Linked DNA regions of Homo sapiens: region 2 is linked to region 1. Evidence: fine-mapped expression QTL. A gene starts in region 1. The other region holds a variant in brackets. All regions are shown on one strand. Distances are from middle to middle. Region 1 holds the start of KIAA0319. Region 2 overlaps KIAA0319.

What was found. PIP is the estimated chance that this variant, and not a neighbour inherited with it, causes the effect.
Region 2: its variant is fine-mapped to the expression of KIAA0319 in testis (GTEx, PIP above 0.99).

The regions. Positions count from the first base shown.
Region 1 is chr6:24,641,892-24,650,234 of GRCh38, forward strand. It overlaps KIAA0319, which reads right to left and starts at 4,300. Exons shown (of 21, transcript NM_014809.4): 1 at 3,845-4,300. It overlaps TDP2 (tyrosyl-DNA phosphodiesterase 2), which reads right to left. Exons shown (of 7, transcript NM_016614.3): 7 at 8,088-8,343. RefSeq lists a silencer at 4,145-4,354.
Region 2 is chr6:24,579,129-24,587,471 of GRCh38, forward strand. It overlaps KIAA0319, which reads right to left. Exons shown (of 21, transcript NM_014809.4): 5 at 4,476-4,574; 6 at 3,121-3,218; 7 at 1,798-1,885; 8 at 730-822. Among named protein-coding and RNA genes, the nearest start is that of KIAA0319, 63 kb to the right of the region's middle. The variant T/A (reference allele first, on the strand shown) is at 4,448.

The DNA.
Region 1 (8,343 bases):
CTTGGTGGTATGCGCCTGTAGTCTCAGTTACTCAGGAGGCTGAGGTGGGAGGAGGCAGAGGCTGCAGTGAGCCAAGATCGTGGCACTGTACTTCAGCCTGGGTGACAGAGCAAGACCGTGTCAGAAAGAGAAGGGGAGGGGAGGGGAGAGAAAGGAAGGGGAGGGGAGGGGAGGGGAGGAAGGAGAGAGAGAAAGAAGAAAGGAAGGGAAGGGAAGGGAAAGAAGGAAGGAAGGAGTAGGGAGGGGAAGGGGAGGGAAGGAGGGAGGGAGGGAGGGAAGTAAGGGAAAGAAAGAAAGAGAGAAAGAAAGAGAAAGAAGGAAAGGAAGGAAGGAAAGAAAGAGAAAGAAAAAAAGAAAAGAAAGAAAGGGAAGGAAGGAAGGAGAGAGAGAAAGAAAGAAAGAAGAAAAGAAAAGAAAGACATTTTAAAGGGTTATTTTGAAAAAATTTTGAAGGTAACTCTGTTACAATGATTACAAGACAGTGCAGCTACACATCATGTACTTCATCTTAATGATGAAAACAAAAGATGGTAAGGTATGCTGACATAATCACAATCTTAGAATAACAGAACAGGATTGTGATCCTGGGAAGGGACAGCCCATACTTCCCCATCATCACATGAATAAACATCCTATCAACTGTAATGCTTAAAATGTATGGGTGTTATGGGTGGCAACGCTGGAGTTAATTTACCCTCCATGCTTATATTCTGATGCTTAATAGCATGGAATGACCCCAACTTTGAAAATTCATTTTTAGGCCTGAATTATCCTCTTATTCAAGCTACATTGCTTAAATTAAATAGATGCTTACTATAATCCTTTGCTGCATTTTTTTTTTTTTTGAATTAGAGTCTTGCTCTGTGGCCCAGGCTGGAGTGCAGTGAGGCAATCTGGGCTCACCGCAACCTCCGCCTCCCGGAGTTCAAGTGATTCGCCTGCCTCAGCTGGGATTACAGGCGCCCACCACTATGCCTGGCTAATTTTTGTATTTTTAGTAGAGATGGGGTTTCACCATGTTGGCCAGGCTGGTCTCGAACTCCTGACCTCAGGTGATCCGTCCATTTCGGACTCCCAAAGTGCTGGGATTATAGGCATGAGCCACCGCGTTCCCAGCCTCCTTTGCTTTTTTGAACTTAAGGAAAAGAATGACCAGCAAGTTGGCAGGCAGGATAATTCTACAATATTATTTAGAAGGAAAAATAACTAAAACTTGAACACTATTATCTTTACCTACTGGTGTCATTTAAGCAGCTCTACTTTAAAACTTAAACACCTACTGTTAAAAGACCCTGCAAAATGATGATGCCAGATGTTACTCTGGCTCAACCATTTTTATTGTTTAATACAAATAAATGAGAAAATATTTTCTTATTATTGAATTCACATGAATAGTGTCTAAAGGTACAGATTTTTAAAGACAAATAGAAAAATAACCTACACTATTCGGGTAATGGGTACACTAAAAGCCCAGACTTTGACACTACACAATATATCCACATAACAAAACTGCACTTGTACACTCTAAATCTATAAAAAAAATTTTAAAAACAAATAGAAAAATAACCTACCAATTATTCTAGGCCTACTAAAGCAAAGCTCCTTCCTTGGGGGTATTAAGCTACCAGAATATTAAATTGACATGATTTTATGATTTTGATTATTATATTTATTATTGTTGCTGTTATAAAGGTGCTGCAAGGAAAAATTTATGCATTTTATGATGATTTGATATCATAAATCAGAACAAGCTTTGGACATGTCAAAATAAATCTATTTTTTAGTACCAAATTATTTTTAAGGTATGAAAAATATTTCCTGAAAAAGAACACATCTCAAAAATAACAACACTTATTGAAGCGTTACTATTAAAACATGCCAGGCAATGAGCAAAGATCTCTTAAACATATTATTGTATTTAATTCTTACAGGAATTTCGTTAAGTAGGTCCCATTGTTATCTCTATTTTACAGGTGAGGAAACTGAGCCTTAGAGGGTTTAGAGAATTTGCCAAATGTGAGACAGCCACTAAGTGGCAGAGCCACGCCCAAACCCACACCCTCTGACCTGGCAATCTGCAGCACTCCGTTCCAGAAACGGGCATACCTGGCTCTACATACAGCAGTGCCTCAATAACATAGTTTCATTCAACGTTGGTGACAAAAAAATTCCTGGCCAGGGCCACTGTCTATGTGGAGTCTGCTCATTCTCCTCATGTCTGCGTGGGTTTTCTCTGGGCTTCGGTTTCCTTCACATCCCAAAGCTGTGCATATGTCTACATGGTCCCCGTCTGAGTGAGTGGGTGTGTCTGTGAAAGTGCACCCTGTGATGGGATAGCTTCCTGGACAGGGGAGAGGGGGGGGTTCCCACTCTGAACCAGGGAGACTCTGGCTACCCATGACCTTGAACTGTAATAATTGGGTAAATAATGATCTTGTTTTTACTAATCCTTCTTAACTGTATGTATAGATCCCATTTATTTCTATGTTTAATATTAGAAGTGTTGTGGTCTTTATTTAGAAGTTTGGTGATTTTTTTATGACCAGAAATATGCTGTAGGAACTTAACTCTTGTTTATATCAATTAGCCTGTGGTAAAATTGGTTTCCTTATACCTCGTTGTGCTTAAAGGTTCACAGTTTCCAAGAACGTATCAAGAATGTTAAGTGAGGACTTACTGTATTTATTTAAAGAGAATGCTTCCTATCTATTGGCTAGGGAAAAAAAAAAAGTCAAGAAAATTTAACAGCAACTCTATTCTTTTACATTCATACATTACCAAAGCTCTCTTTTGGCTATTTTTAATTCATAAAGATTTTGGCTGAATTATTTTCATTATTTCGAAACAAAAATTAAGTTCTTGCCTCGGCATTTTGCATTACAAATGCAAATGCATTACAAATGGTTAATACAAATAAATCAGAGTACTTAGGTAATATGTTTACATTTCCCTTTTTCAAATTACAGAGGAATTCACCTTTCTCTGTGACTCCTACGTCTATAACTGAACTGACACCTCCAGTTTTCCTCATCTGAATTAAAAATAATACTAAAAAAAGCACAAAATAAAAGTTTAGATTTGGCATAACTTTAGTAGTCTCTACAATTGTGGTCTTCTTATAATAAATTGAAGCATTTGGAAAGTGAGCATGTATTTCAGGAATAAAGAAATAAATACCAACATTTACTTCCAAAATTCTTGTGTGTGGGGGGGAACATTGTCTACAATTTATTTTTTCTGTTACTATCAAAAACATCATTCAACTTTTCAATTCAAGCAGTGGAAAAAATACTAACATTTCACCGACAAACAAAAATGTTTTGATGAACAAACCAGCAATAAAAGTGCACATGAGTATGTATATCATATTTTTCCTCCTTGTATTTAATTAACAAATGACCTTAAGATGATAACTCTCAAAATTTCAGGTTTATCCTCCCGATTAATTTGTGACATTCCTTGGAGGGAATTCAAAGGGAAGAAGAGAAAGATTTTAAGCTTCAGGTTATGGTAAGGAACAGAGACAAAATGCATTTAGCAAATAATAGGAAAGATCACATAAATAGTTCTGAATGAAGTTTAAAGAAAACGATTCCTTACTTCTAAAAAAATGCAATTCGTGAGGTTGGGAAAAGACACTCAAATTTCCCCGACTCCACCCTACTAGTCAACAATCAGTGCAGCAATCAAAAAATGCCCTTTCCTGAATGCCCAGAAGAATCTTAAGAAACTCACCTTCTGAACTCAGGGCGTCTCGATTCTACTTTTGTTGGGTATTGGCCTGCCTACTGGCTGCCCTCTTTCCTATTTCTCGGCCAGGCGCTCTGGGAAGTAGATACCGTACCTGTGGTCACTGCTGGCGACACTGAAGCTCGCCCCATGCGTTGCTGCTGGCCCTGAGCATCACTCGCCGTCCCACTTGTTCCTCCTCGTCGTCATCGCAGGTCTTACACACACACACACACACACACACACACACACACACACACACACACACGTTCACACCCTCGCGCGCGCACCTGCTGTTAAGAGGTACAGCCCCACCCCAGCAAAATCCTCGCTTCCTCTTCCCCGGGACGTAGCCCCAGAGGAGCGAATCTGGACCAAGCCCAAGACAGGCTGAAGCTACTGCTGCGCTCTCACCTCCGGCAGTGACAGCGAGCGCCGCCGCCGCTCTGCGCGGGGCCAGCCAGGCCCGCCGAGGGCAGCACAGGTGGAGCAAGGTTGCACCCCCGGGGGATCCCCGCCCACCGCCCGCGGCAGCTTCTGCAGGCTCGGGGAAAGCGCGCGCCAGTGATTCAGCGCCTTTCCGCCGCCGCGGTTACCACGGCGACGCGCGCGCACGCGCACACACGCCCTCAGGGATGTGGGGCGCGGCAGCCGCCCCTGCCCAGCTCCCCTGCTCAGCTCCCCTGCTCAGCTCCCCGGTTGCGCTCTAAGTACCCGCACCGGGGCGACACACTCCCACCCCGCAGGGGACCAAGCAAAAGTCTTTCGTGAACCTGAGCGGCCTTCATACCCTACCTGCTTTCCTTCACCAAGCCCTTCCCTGTCACCGTGGCCCTAAACAGTCTGGGGGATGAACACTCCTTCCAAATAAACACCCGGGCCAGGGTGGCTCAAGGGAGCCGTGGGTGCACTGCCTGGGTCAAACACCCTTCGCGAATGTGTCCCCCAGCTTGTCCCCAGCTTGTGTCACCCCAGCTACACAAGTTCCATTCTTCCAGTGGGAGTCTCTTTGGCCCCTACTCTGTAATTATCTTTCTATTTTGAGCAGGTGCTTTCTGACTGAGACTGGGAACCTGTGCTAGGAGGGGCTCCCATCACCTCCAGGCCTTGCAGGTTAACTGGATGCCCAGTATAGTTTGACATTTGCATCTTGAGGAACGTGATAATCTAAACCACAGAAAACTTGGGTGGAAGACTCTTGCATTTTTACTGTTTTAATAAAGATGCGAAAGCATCTAGGGATAATATCATGAGCAGAAAAGGTAGCCAGGGCATTCCTCGCACATCTCATTACTAGGAGGTATAAGTGCAGTGCTTAGGGCTGAGTCACACACTGTTGATGAATAAGCTTCTTGGCTACTCGTATTTACCGAAGAGCCTCAGACAAGTTACCTAATCTAGATAAACCTGTTTCCTCAATTATAAAATGAAGATAATAGCATTCATATAGGATGATTCTGGGAATCAAATAAGATAATGCACATTTAAAGAGTAAAAACCAGCTGGGTGCGGTGGCTCACGCCTGTAATCCTAGCACTTTGGCAGGCCGAGGCGGGCGGATCACGAGGTCAGGAGATCGAGACCATTCTGGCTAACACGGTGAAACCCCCGTCTCTACTAAAAATACAAAAAATTAACCGGGAGTGGTGGCCCGCGCCTGTAGTTCCAGCTACTTGAGAGGCTGAGGCAGGAGAATCGCTTGAATCCAGGAGGCGGAGGTTGCAGTGAGCCGAGATCGTGCCACTGCACTCCAGCCTGGGCGACAGAGCAAGACTCCGTCTCAAAATAAATAAATAAATAAATAAATAAATAAATAAATAAATAAATAAATAAATAAAAACTAAAGAGTAAAAACCTGTCCAGGACTCAAAGAGTGAAAATCAGCTTGGACTTGGAAAAGTTAGTACTGCCAATGATCAATGATCAGGCTGAGAGGACAAAGTCAGAAGCAAAATTAACAGGCAATGTTGTTTCCTCTGAAGTCACGCAGCAGGTACAAAACAACACAACTCCTTGTGTTCCATTTTTGAATGACTACTACTTTCTACCTTTGCTTTACTATTCCCATCCATAACTGGGGATACCCAATTGCTAAACTCCCTTCACCTCCTGACAGCACCCAATCCCTCATTAATCCCCCTTTCTCTCAATCTGCCTCAGAAACAGCAACCAACTGGATCCCAGCTCTGATTCCAAGACTCTCCCTGGAATCCTTTAATAGGAAGCCAAATCTTTACAAAAGACACTTCCTCCTTTCTGTGCTCACATGGCATTCCACAGGTACTCTTTCAATGCATCAAGCCAATGAATCTGATTTTGTCCCCAACGATCCTTGGCTGATTAGCCTTTAAAGAAACATATTTTTAGCACATACACACACACACAGGCTTAGCCCAGAATGTTTAACTATACCATCTTTTTAACTCAGAGACACTGTAATGAATATCTATTTTCATTTTTAATGAATATATCTATTTTGGTATTGTATGAAAATGTTAGTCTCCTTCTTTAGGACACAGATGTGAGGCTACTACCTTTCACTTCTTTTCAGCATTCAGTGGACATCCATTGAGCTCCTACTATATGCCAGACACTGCAAGAGGTAGTAAGGATAAAATGATGTATCCTTAGTATAATTAACTTTGTCTGCTCTTGCTTATGCTTTTGGTTGGGACATTTGTACAATAAAAGATAACTTATTTTGAGGGTGGGTAAAACTGAGGTTTAGGAAGGTTAAAGTACATTCCACATCAGTGGTAAAAATGGTGCTTAGCGTAATGACAGTGCTGCCTCATTGAAATACAAGACTTTAGGCCACGTACAGTGGCTCATGCCTATAATCCCAGCACTTTGTGGGCGAGGCAGGAGGATTGAGTGAGCCCCGGAGTTCGAGGCCAGCCTGGGCAACATAGCAAGATCCTCTCTGTACAAAAAACAAAAACAAATAAAAAGTAGCTGGGTGTGTGGTGCACACCTGTAATCCCAGCTACCCAAGAGTCTGAGGCTAGAGGATCACTTGTGCCCAGGAGGTTGAGACTGAAAAAAAAAAAAAAAAAAACCCAGAAGATTCTATGTTGGAATTTCACTAAGCAGGAAGGTAAGGCAAGCAAAGCTACTACACTGGAAAAACTTTGAAAAATTCCAAGTAAAAAACTCAAGATATAGCAAATTAGTAGGTTAATTCATTGATAACTATTGCTCATGAAAGCAGACTAAAAGTGGTTTTTTTTGAGACAGTCTTGCTCTGTCGCCCAGGCTGGAGTGCAGTGGCACGATCTCGGCTTACTGCAACCTCCGCCTCCCAGGGTCAAGTGATTCTCCTGCCTCAGCCTCCTGAGTAGCTTGGATTACAGGCACGTGTCACCACGCCTGGCTAATTTTTGTATTTTTAGTAGAGATGGGGTTTCACCATGTTGGCTAGACGAGTCTTGAACTTCTGACCTCAGGTGATCCACCTGCCTCGGCCTCCCAAAGTGCTGGGATTACAGGCATGAGCCACTGCACCCAGCCGATAATCCTTTATTTAATCTAGTATACTACACTGTATTTTTTTTTTAAGAATTTAGACTTTCACCCATCTATGTTTTGCAATGTGATCTGAAGTTCTAACTTAGCTCTTCTAAATGAAAGCAATTTATGCCAGAATAACCCTTTTCCCACAGAAATGTACTATTGTATTACCTCTATGATGTATGCTACTCTACTATTAACATCTATTCTCATTTTTTATTTTATTTTTGAGATGGAGTCTCACTCTGTTGCCCAGGCTGGAGTGCAGTGGCACGATCTTGGCTCACTGCAAGTTCTGCTTCCTGGGTTCGTGCCATTCTCCTGCCTCAGCCTCCTGAGTAGCTGGGACTACAAGCACTCGCCATCACGTCCGGCTAATTTTTTGTATTTTTAGTAGAGACAGGGTTTCACCGTGTTAGCCAGGATGGTCTCGATCTCCTGACCTCGTGATCCACCCGCCTCAGCCTCCCAAAGTGCTGGGATTACAGGTGTGAGCCACTGCACCCGGCCCTCATTTTTTATTTTTAATGATTAAAATTATGATTAACATTTAAACTTTTTCGTTGTCACTACAAAGGGAATATTATATATAAATATCTTTTTTTAGGTGTTTAAATTTTGGCACTCCTGATATAAATAAGATTCTATTACTTCTAATTATTCTCGCTGGCTTTTTTTCAGACAAAGGAAGCAGATATATTCTTGGTAATTCTTGGTGGAGTGAGAAGCAAATGGAAATCTGTTTTCTTCTACACAAAGAGGAAGAAGCAGCAGTAGAGCCAGAAGCAGGAAGCAGATAAAAAATTTAATCTCATCATGGACACAAAAACATACTAAAACAAACCATAAACAAATAAAATTCTTTATTTAAATTTCTCTTGTGGGGAAAATATTTTTCTTTAAAGCACACTTAAAAGTAATTTGCATTTACTTCCTGTAAAGCATTTCCATTTCACAATTAGCAAAACTAAAAGGCTATGTCTCTTCATGCATTTATTTTTGTTAGAAAAATGTCCCATGGTGCTATCAAACCGATTTTAACCATCATCAAGCTTAACTTTGCCTCTGTTGACAACATGACTACAAACATGAATCAAAAAGGAG
Region 2 (8,343 bases), 63 kb before region 1:
TAAATGTACATAAAATGCAATTACCTGTTACACTGATAAGGTTGAACCTAGTCAACCACAGGATGTTTTCAACCTATTCTTATTTACATGGACACCTGTAGTTAACACAGGGGCCCCTTCCACATATACTCCCATAGAAGAAACGATCTCTGAATGAATTTTAAAAAACCACCACGCTCCCTCACTGAAGACATCCCTTCTAAGAGTTCTTAAAAGTGATTTTCCCATCTGGTGGGGGGCACCTCCCCTCCCAAGTCAGGTCACGGGAGCTCCTCTATATAAAGATATATATATATATATATATCTTATATATCTCATATATATCTTATATATCTCATATATATATCTTATATATCTCATATATCTTATATATCTCATATATATCTTATATATCTTATATATATATACATATATATATACACAAAGTGATTTTCCAACTGCTAACCATATATACCACACCAGAAGGAGATTCTTCAATAATTGCTCTAATTCCCTATCAAATGGCCAGGCGCTAAAGAACTTTCTAATAGAATAGACGAAAGGTGAAGGGAAAATAAGCACAGGATAGAGGAGCTAAAGGAACTAAAGAAGACATAAAACTAAAGAAGGAGGTGATCGTTTATCAAAGTAACAGCCCATAAGTCCTCCTAGCTTTGATGCAGAGCACTCATTACATTTCGTAGCACGTAGAGAAAAAAAGAAATCCCTAAACTATCTCAGGATACACACGGCTGCCATCAATGAGGGCTGACGTCAAAGGCAAAGTGAGCTCTTGCAGTTGGGGAGAAACAACTGCTACAGGTGGCAGGTTGACTCTTCTGGCTGTAACAAAAAAAAGGACAGTGACTGAGCCCATCTTGTGTAGGCATATGTCATTACCCACATAAAATCATCTACTTTAAAAAATTGATTATACATGTCCTGTCAAGAAGGTGTTTATCCTACAGGCCTCAACTATGGAGAGCACTTTTTAAAGTCTGGAGTCTCTCTATGAATTTCAGGAGCTTGTCTGGACATTTACACTTTTGCATGTAAGCCCAGGCTCAGTGAAGATGTACAATAATAACCAAGGGGCTCATCACAGAATGTGAGCAGTAATTACAGAGCAGGAGCAAGGGATGAAGGGATTACAGTTCCAGCTCCTTGGATTGAGTGGATCTTATATCTCTAACTGAAGGCAACTCCCCCCCCCACCCCCCATAACCATATGCAAAAGATAGAGCTGTCAGGCCCTCAGGGTGGGCTGAAGTGGGTACAAGGGAGGTTCACCTTGATTGGGTCGGTTGTGCCCTCAGCACAGGTGAGGGGTTGGTGGAGGCTGAAAGCCAGCCCATGTTCTACTCACCAAGCCAGGGCTGTGCCCACCCAGCCCAAGAACCACCTGTTTCTAATTCACATGAATGCACTGACCGATGGGCATACATTTTCCCCTGACCTCTTGGTTGCTCAGTTGAATGTATTCAACATGCCCCTGCTTCGAAGGTGAAGCTGAATCACGGAGAGTGGAGGTAGAAGTTAGAGTGGATGGTGTAAATGTCAGATAGAGAGGGCTAAGGTAGATTTGCCACCATTCGAGAGCAGCCAGCAATAACCTTGTCAAGCAAGTACAAAGTGTTATGCGAAAGGTAGAAAAAAAAACCAAAAATATAATCTTTGCGTGTTTTCTCTACAATGGAGCCTAATACAAAATAGGTTTTGTCTCTCTAGGTAGATAGGTAGACAGATATAGAGTCATCCAGGCACCAAAAATTGAGATAAATATGTACAACAGGAGGTCATTCTCTTACACCGGCTTACCAGGCTTAACAGTGACATTGACAAATCCTTCTCCAAAGGCGTTTTCACTAGAAACAGTGACTTTGAAGACATAAAGTCCGACGGACAACTGTAACATAAAGAAAAGTTGTACAGTTCAACATGCAAGACGTGATGGGTCCACTACGTAGAAAAAGCTAAAATGTCCCAGAAGCCGCACTCCTAAAGTCAGCATAGAGAAGGGGCTCAGGAGACAGTCTCATTTGGATCTGTCAAGAGGCTGCCGCATGTTTGAAGCCTGAATTCTGGAGCACTAAAGATCACCTAGACAGGCCTTTAGCTTCGCTGCAGAGGGCTTCAAAGAGGCCTGGGTGAGATGGACCAGCAGAGGGCAGCAGTTCTCAAATGTGTGTATGGAACCATGCATTTTTACCACCTAGCTCTGGTGCATTGGTTGCCGGTGGTCTGGATGCCACACTTTGAGAAACACAGCTCCATGACATGAGGGTGATGCAAGTCTGTGTTGTACCATTAGCTGTGTGGTCCCAGGAGATGAAGTCAACATAATCATCTGGTAGGAGACTAGATCTCTAGTCGCTAAGTCGGTTTATATATCCTCCTAGGCCAGAAAGAGGGCATGTTTCTTGTGAGTGCTTGTATCATAGAACAATATGTGATAGGGCAAATTGTGACCTGGAATGGAATTATTGGCAACTCTAGAGATGTGCCGGACTGAGAACCAGAGATAAGTAGAATGTCCTTAACACTGCAAGGAGAGCAAGAGTTACAACAGGTTTTTAACCTCTCTGCAATGCTTGTGGGACAACCAGGCTCTTTTCCCCAAACTGAGATATACTAAGTAACCCAAATAAAGAAACGCCATCCAAAGCCTCTTAACCATCTGCCTGCCTACTTGCATGCCTGAAACTTTATTCATTCATATCCTACTTTTGATCTTACCATGAGAAAGATGTTTGCAGCTGGGCGTGGTGGCTCATGCCTGTAATCCCAACACTTTGGGAGGCCAAGGAGGGCAGATCACTTGAGGTCAGGAATTCAAAACCAGCCTGGCCAACATGGCGAAACCCCACCTCTACAAAAAATACAAAAAAATTAGCCGGGTGTGGTGACGTGCACCTGTAATCCCAGCTACTCAGGAGGCTGAGGCAGGAGAATCACTTGAACCCGGGAGGCAGAGGTTGCAGTGAGCTGTAATTGCGCTACTGCACTCCAGCCTGGGCAACAGAGCAAGACTCTGTCCCCAAAAAGAAGAAAGACGTTTGGGTTCAGTAGCTAAGAAGGTATTAACTGAGCTCTATGCCGTTACGCTGTGCTGTTAGACACAACCAGTCTCCAGTTACTTACTTGAGAGAGGTTAAGAGTTTGCTTGTGTCCTTGTTTTATTTCACCTTGGTAGTCTGTGGGGTGGCTTATTAAATTCCATTCATAGTTGTAGGTTGTTTCTGAGAGCAAAAAATAAATATGAGTAGTTATAAATTCTGAGAGGACACTAGATAACCTGGGCAGAGGGAAGATGACAGCCTTTAAACCACCAGTGCAGATTACCTTAGATATACTCAACTCAGCTTTCTTTTTTTTTTTTAACTTATATATATATTTTTTGTTTATTTGTTTTTATCCCCTCACTCTTGTTATCATCTTATGAACTTGACTTTCAACTATCAGCCAAGATAACATGTATCTTCTTAATGTAACATTTCTTTTTTTGTTATAAAAACATACGTCTTACAGGAAATTTTTAAAATGTATAAAGTTAAAAAAAAAAAAACCTCCCTAACTTAACCATTAGTATGTGATGAGTTTTTTCCTAGGGGGCTACATCTGACTATCCATATCAGTTTTAACATAGTATAATACATTGTGCTTTTCTCTTTTTAACAAAAGGCAAGGAGATTTCAATTCATTTGATCTGTTGTAGGGGTTTATTTAAGGACACAAAAACAGTATAAACATGTCTATGTTAAGATGAAACTGTCTCCCAGCTGCAGATATTAGTAGTTAAAATATAAGGTACCTCACCTCAAAGGATTAAAATGCAAATGCCAAATATTATCATCTCTGTGTATAAAATTTTGACCAATATGTGGTGGAGAAAAAAATGAATTAAGGAACTAACCTGAATGAGAAATAGTCAAACACCTTAAGAATGAGTTTACCTTAAAAACAATGCATTTGACAGGCCACAGGTCCCAGGTCAAATGCTTACTGAATGGTAGAGCACTGGACAAGTAGAAGAAAGAGCATTTTGAATAAATTTTTTTGAGCAGCTAGTGTGAGGCATCCTGAGAACCTGAGAGCCGTGATTGTCAATGCCACAGTATCTGCAAACAAACCTATGGGTGCACGCCACTTCCCTCTCATCCCGGTGGAATCTTCCCAGGTTCTATGGGTTATTACAGTTCAAGAACTGGTACGTGGCAGCCTCTCCTGATCTGCTTTGCATCATCAGAAATTTATGACTTTCCATCCTGACCAATTAAACGATATATACTGTATTTAATTTCCTAGATTCTTACTCCATTTGAAACTATTTCAACAAATGTTGATGCTTAAGAATAATCAAAGCCTTGTCCTCCACCTTTGTTTGTGACGTCGTGCAATACTGTGAAAAAGAATCGGCGTTGTAAATAGCCTGTAAGGACCTGCTGAAGAAAAACACCCCAGTTCCTAG[T/A]GGTCAGGGAGGAAGGTTAAACTCTCACCTACAGGTGGCGCTGGCGCAACAAAGGCCTTCAGTTCAACTTCATTGTCGGGTAAAGTTATAATTAGGTTATCTCCAGCCGATACCGTAAGTTCTTTCACTAAAAGTTAATTAGAAATAATACGTGCAATTATATAATATAATGTGTTACATTACTGCTCTACACTAGATCTGTTTTTGGTATCCATAAATTAAAATAACATATGCTTTTGTAATAGTTCTTCATAAGATTTTAGCTAAGGCACGTTTTTCCTCTGGCTAGAAATTGAACTGTACACTATATTATAGTACAGGGTTTTAAACCACAAATATGAGTTGGCACTGTGACAAAAATAATGATTCAAATTGACTGAGCAACGTATTGAGTGACAAGAGTTGCGTGAAACAGGTTTCATGCAACTGTGAATTGGGTCCATTTTCTCCCTTGCTATCAGCTTTTCTTGACGCCCTGGTGTGAGCTATTTTTAGTTATAAAAAGATTGAGTGTAATCCTAAGTGTTTCTGTCTCATTAGTCACACTCCACTCAGTTCTGATAGTAGCCTCATGAATTACTGCTAATGGCCTTGTACTTGGAACCTTTCCAAGACAAAATCCAGTCACCCTCAATATAAAAAACCTATTTTAACTTAAGCAGCAGGAACATTAACTCTTATCAAAAGTGCTTAGCCACCAAGTAAGCATTCAGAACAATACTTGTTTACTTTCTCTGTAACCAGATTACATTGATATATTCATAAATTCTATCGGTTTGGCTCCATTGGACATTAGTTTCACTTGTAAAATATATTGCGATATGTCCAGATACTACACAGAGAAAAGCAAAGATTTAAAAAAAAAAAAAAAAAAAAAAAAGCTGAGTGCTCCAGAGGGATCAGCTGCAAGGAGATGTCAGACAGGTTGTTCATTTAATCCACTCCCCTCCTCTCAGTCCTCAGTCCCTCGAGTGCCTCCTAGATCAGCTGCAGAGGCTCTCAGTGGCTTTGCTGGCTCCTCTCTTGTCATTTTCACTAACTCTTTATCCTGAAAGTCAGCAACTGTAGACCTAGAAGGGACATTGATCCAAACCTATCATGTTATAGGTGGGGAAATTAAATCCTAGAAAAGCAAAGTTGTCCAAGGCTGTATGGTAATTAGCAATAGGTCCACCAATATTTAATTTAAATGTATTCATTTCAACAAACACTTATATACCGGATTAAACTGTGCCAGGCATTGCCCCAAGGGCTTTAAAATGATCAATTCATTTAATCCTCATTACAACTGTATGCAGTAGGTTCTATTAAAACCCAAAGATCCTGGGCCAAACTCCCAGGCCAGTTTCTTTTTCCGTATACTACACAGCTTCTCTCCCACTATTATCTTTCTCTCTATGGAAGCTCAGGCTCAAAGTAAATACAAAAGTTAGAGAGAGTAATCTCCAAAATACATGGCCCACAGAAAAGCTCAGGAAACATGACCCTTACGTCTAGCATATTCTAATAACTTCCTTATTGGAAAATCTAATGGAAGCTTTGCAATCCTCACCACAGCCTCTGCGACACATGGAGCTTTGATACGTCTTCCCTTTTGGAACTACAGGAGACCAGAACATGCCACCCCAAAATATGATTTGTGAAAGGGAAATAAATCTCGGGACCCCCAAATCACTAAGCCAAAGGGAAAAGTCAAGCTGGGAACTGTGTCAGGCAAACCCGCATCTCATTTTATTCCTAAACGAGATACCTACAAAGATTAAAAAAAAAAAAAGCTACATGCCTTCCTTATAATTTGCCCACAAGAAACTCCTTGTGGGCCTCAAGATCTTTGCCCTAAAACAGTTTTGTTGAATTTCACCCTGGCAATGTAAATCAATAGCTTATCTTCACAGGTGCAGGGGGTGGGGGAAAGAGCTCAGCCATCCCTCTGCTCACCTGAGACAAATGCATATCTAATTGTTTCCTCTGCCCTATTGTTTATGAAAAAATACAGATTCACTGAGCCAGACAAGGCATAAGTGACTATTCCTCTACCCCCTCTGGCAAGTAAATTGTGTATTCAGTGAAAGACTGATCAAAGACTCAAAAGAATGCAATATTTGTCTCTTATATACCTATGACCTGAAAGACCCCCTTCCAGTTGTCATGCCTTTCTGGACCAAACCAATGTACATCTCACACATACTGATTGATGTCTTATGTCTCCCTAAAATGTATAAAACCAAGGTGGCCAGGCACAGTGGCTCACACCTGTAATCCCAGTACTTTGGGAGGCTGAGGCAGGTGGATCACTTGAAGTCAGAAGTTCAAGACCAGGCTGGCCAACACGGAGAAACCCTGTCTCTACTAAAAATACAAAAATTAGCCGGGAATGGTCATGGGTGCCTGTAATCCCAGTTACTCAGGAAGCTGAGGCAGGAGAATCTCTTGAACCTCGGAGGCAGAGGTTGCAGTGAGCCAAGGTCACGCCACTGCACTCCAGCCTGGCCACGAAGCAAGACTCCGTCTCAAAACAAACAAAAAAAAACAAGCTGTACCCTGACCACCTTGGATACATGTCATCAGGACCTCCTGAGGCTGTGTCACTGGTGAGTCCTTAACCTTGGCAAAATAAACTTTCTAAATTGATTGAGACCTGTCTCAGATACTTTTGGTTCACAGACTGTAGGAAACTAGAATATGCCATTGCAACTATAACTCTTTTATACAAGGATTATTTTGAGCTGTGTTTTTTGTTTGTTTGTTTGTTTGTTTTGAAGAAACAGCAGACCAAGAGGAGCTCTGAAAACAGAGTAGAAGTTACTCCTTTGTAAGGGGAATTTATATCTATAAAGGAAATCTCCATTTGTAAGGGTCTCTCTCCTTCTATACCAGGAAGAGAAGGGTGACTACATTCCAAGAGATCCACATCCATAGAGAAGGTCCTGACAAATCTGCATAATGAACCTCACTCTTGCTTACTTCGTTTATTCTGGGCACCTTTGGCCACTTGCCTTCCCCACAATCCTCTTTCCTTGTTTTAGTTCAAGATGCTATATAAGCCAGAGTTCCAGGCTTATATAATATAAGCTTATATAATAAACCTCTCTGAGATTTCCTCATTTCCCTGGGCATCTCCCACGTATAGGTAAGATGTACATGTTATAAACTTGTTTTTTTTTTCTCTCTTGTTAATCTATCTTTTGTTACAGGGGCACTAGCCTAGAACTTAGAAGGGTAGATGGAAACTTATTCTATCCTCCTCCATAGAACTCTCTCCCTCTAGCTTTCCTCTTTATCTCCTACCTCTCTGGCACAACTACCCAATCAGTTTTGCAGGCTCCTTCTGCACTTCCAGCTCCTTATAGAACAATGTCCCCAAAGTTCCAGTCCTCAGGCCTCTCCTCAGCTAACCCCCCTCTCTCCCTGGATGATCTCCTATGTCCCCCGTGTCTGCAACTATCACCTCCACACCGATGACTCGTAATCCTTTATCTTCAGCCCAACTGCTCATCTAATTTTAGTTCTGTATTTTCATATGTCTTAGCGTCCTCTTCCTTCACATCCTTACATTCATTCAATCACTTATCAAATCTTTGTGACTCTGCTCCCTTCCTGTCTCCTAAATCTGGTTCCTTCCCTCCATCTCTGCAACCATTCACCATAGCCTTTTCATGGATCTTGTTGCCTCTAGTCAACTCCACACTATTTTCTTTTTTTTCCTTTTTTTTTGGTTTGAGACGGAATCTCACTCTGTCGCCCAGGCTGGACAGAATGCAGTGGCATGATCTCAGCTCACTGCAAGCTTTGCCTCCCGGGTTCATGCCATTCTCCTGCCTCAGCCTCCCAAGTAGCTGGGACTACAGGCGCCCACCACCACGTCTGGCTAATTTTTTGTATTTTTAGTAGAGATG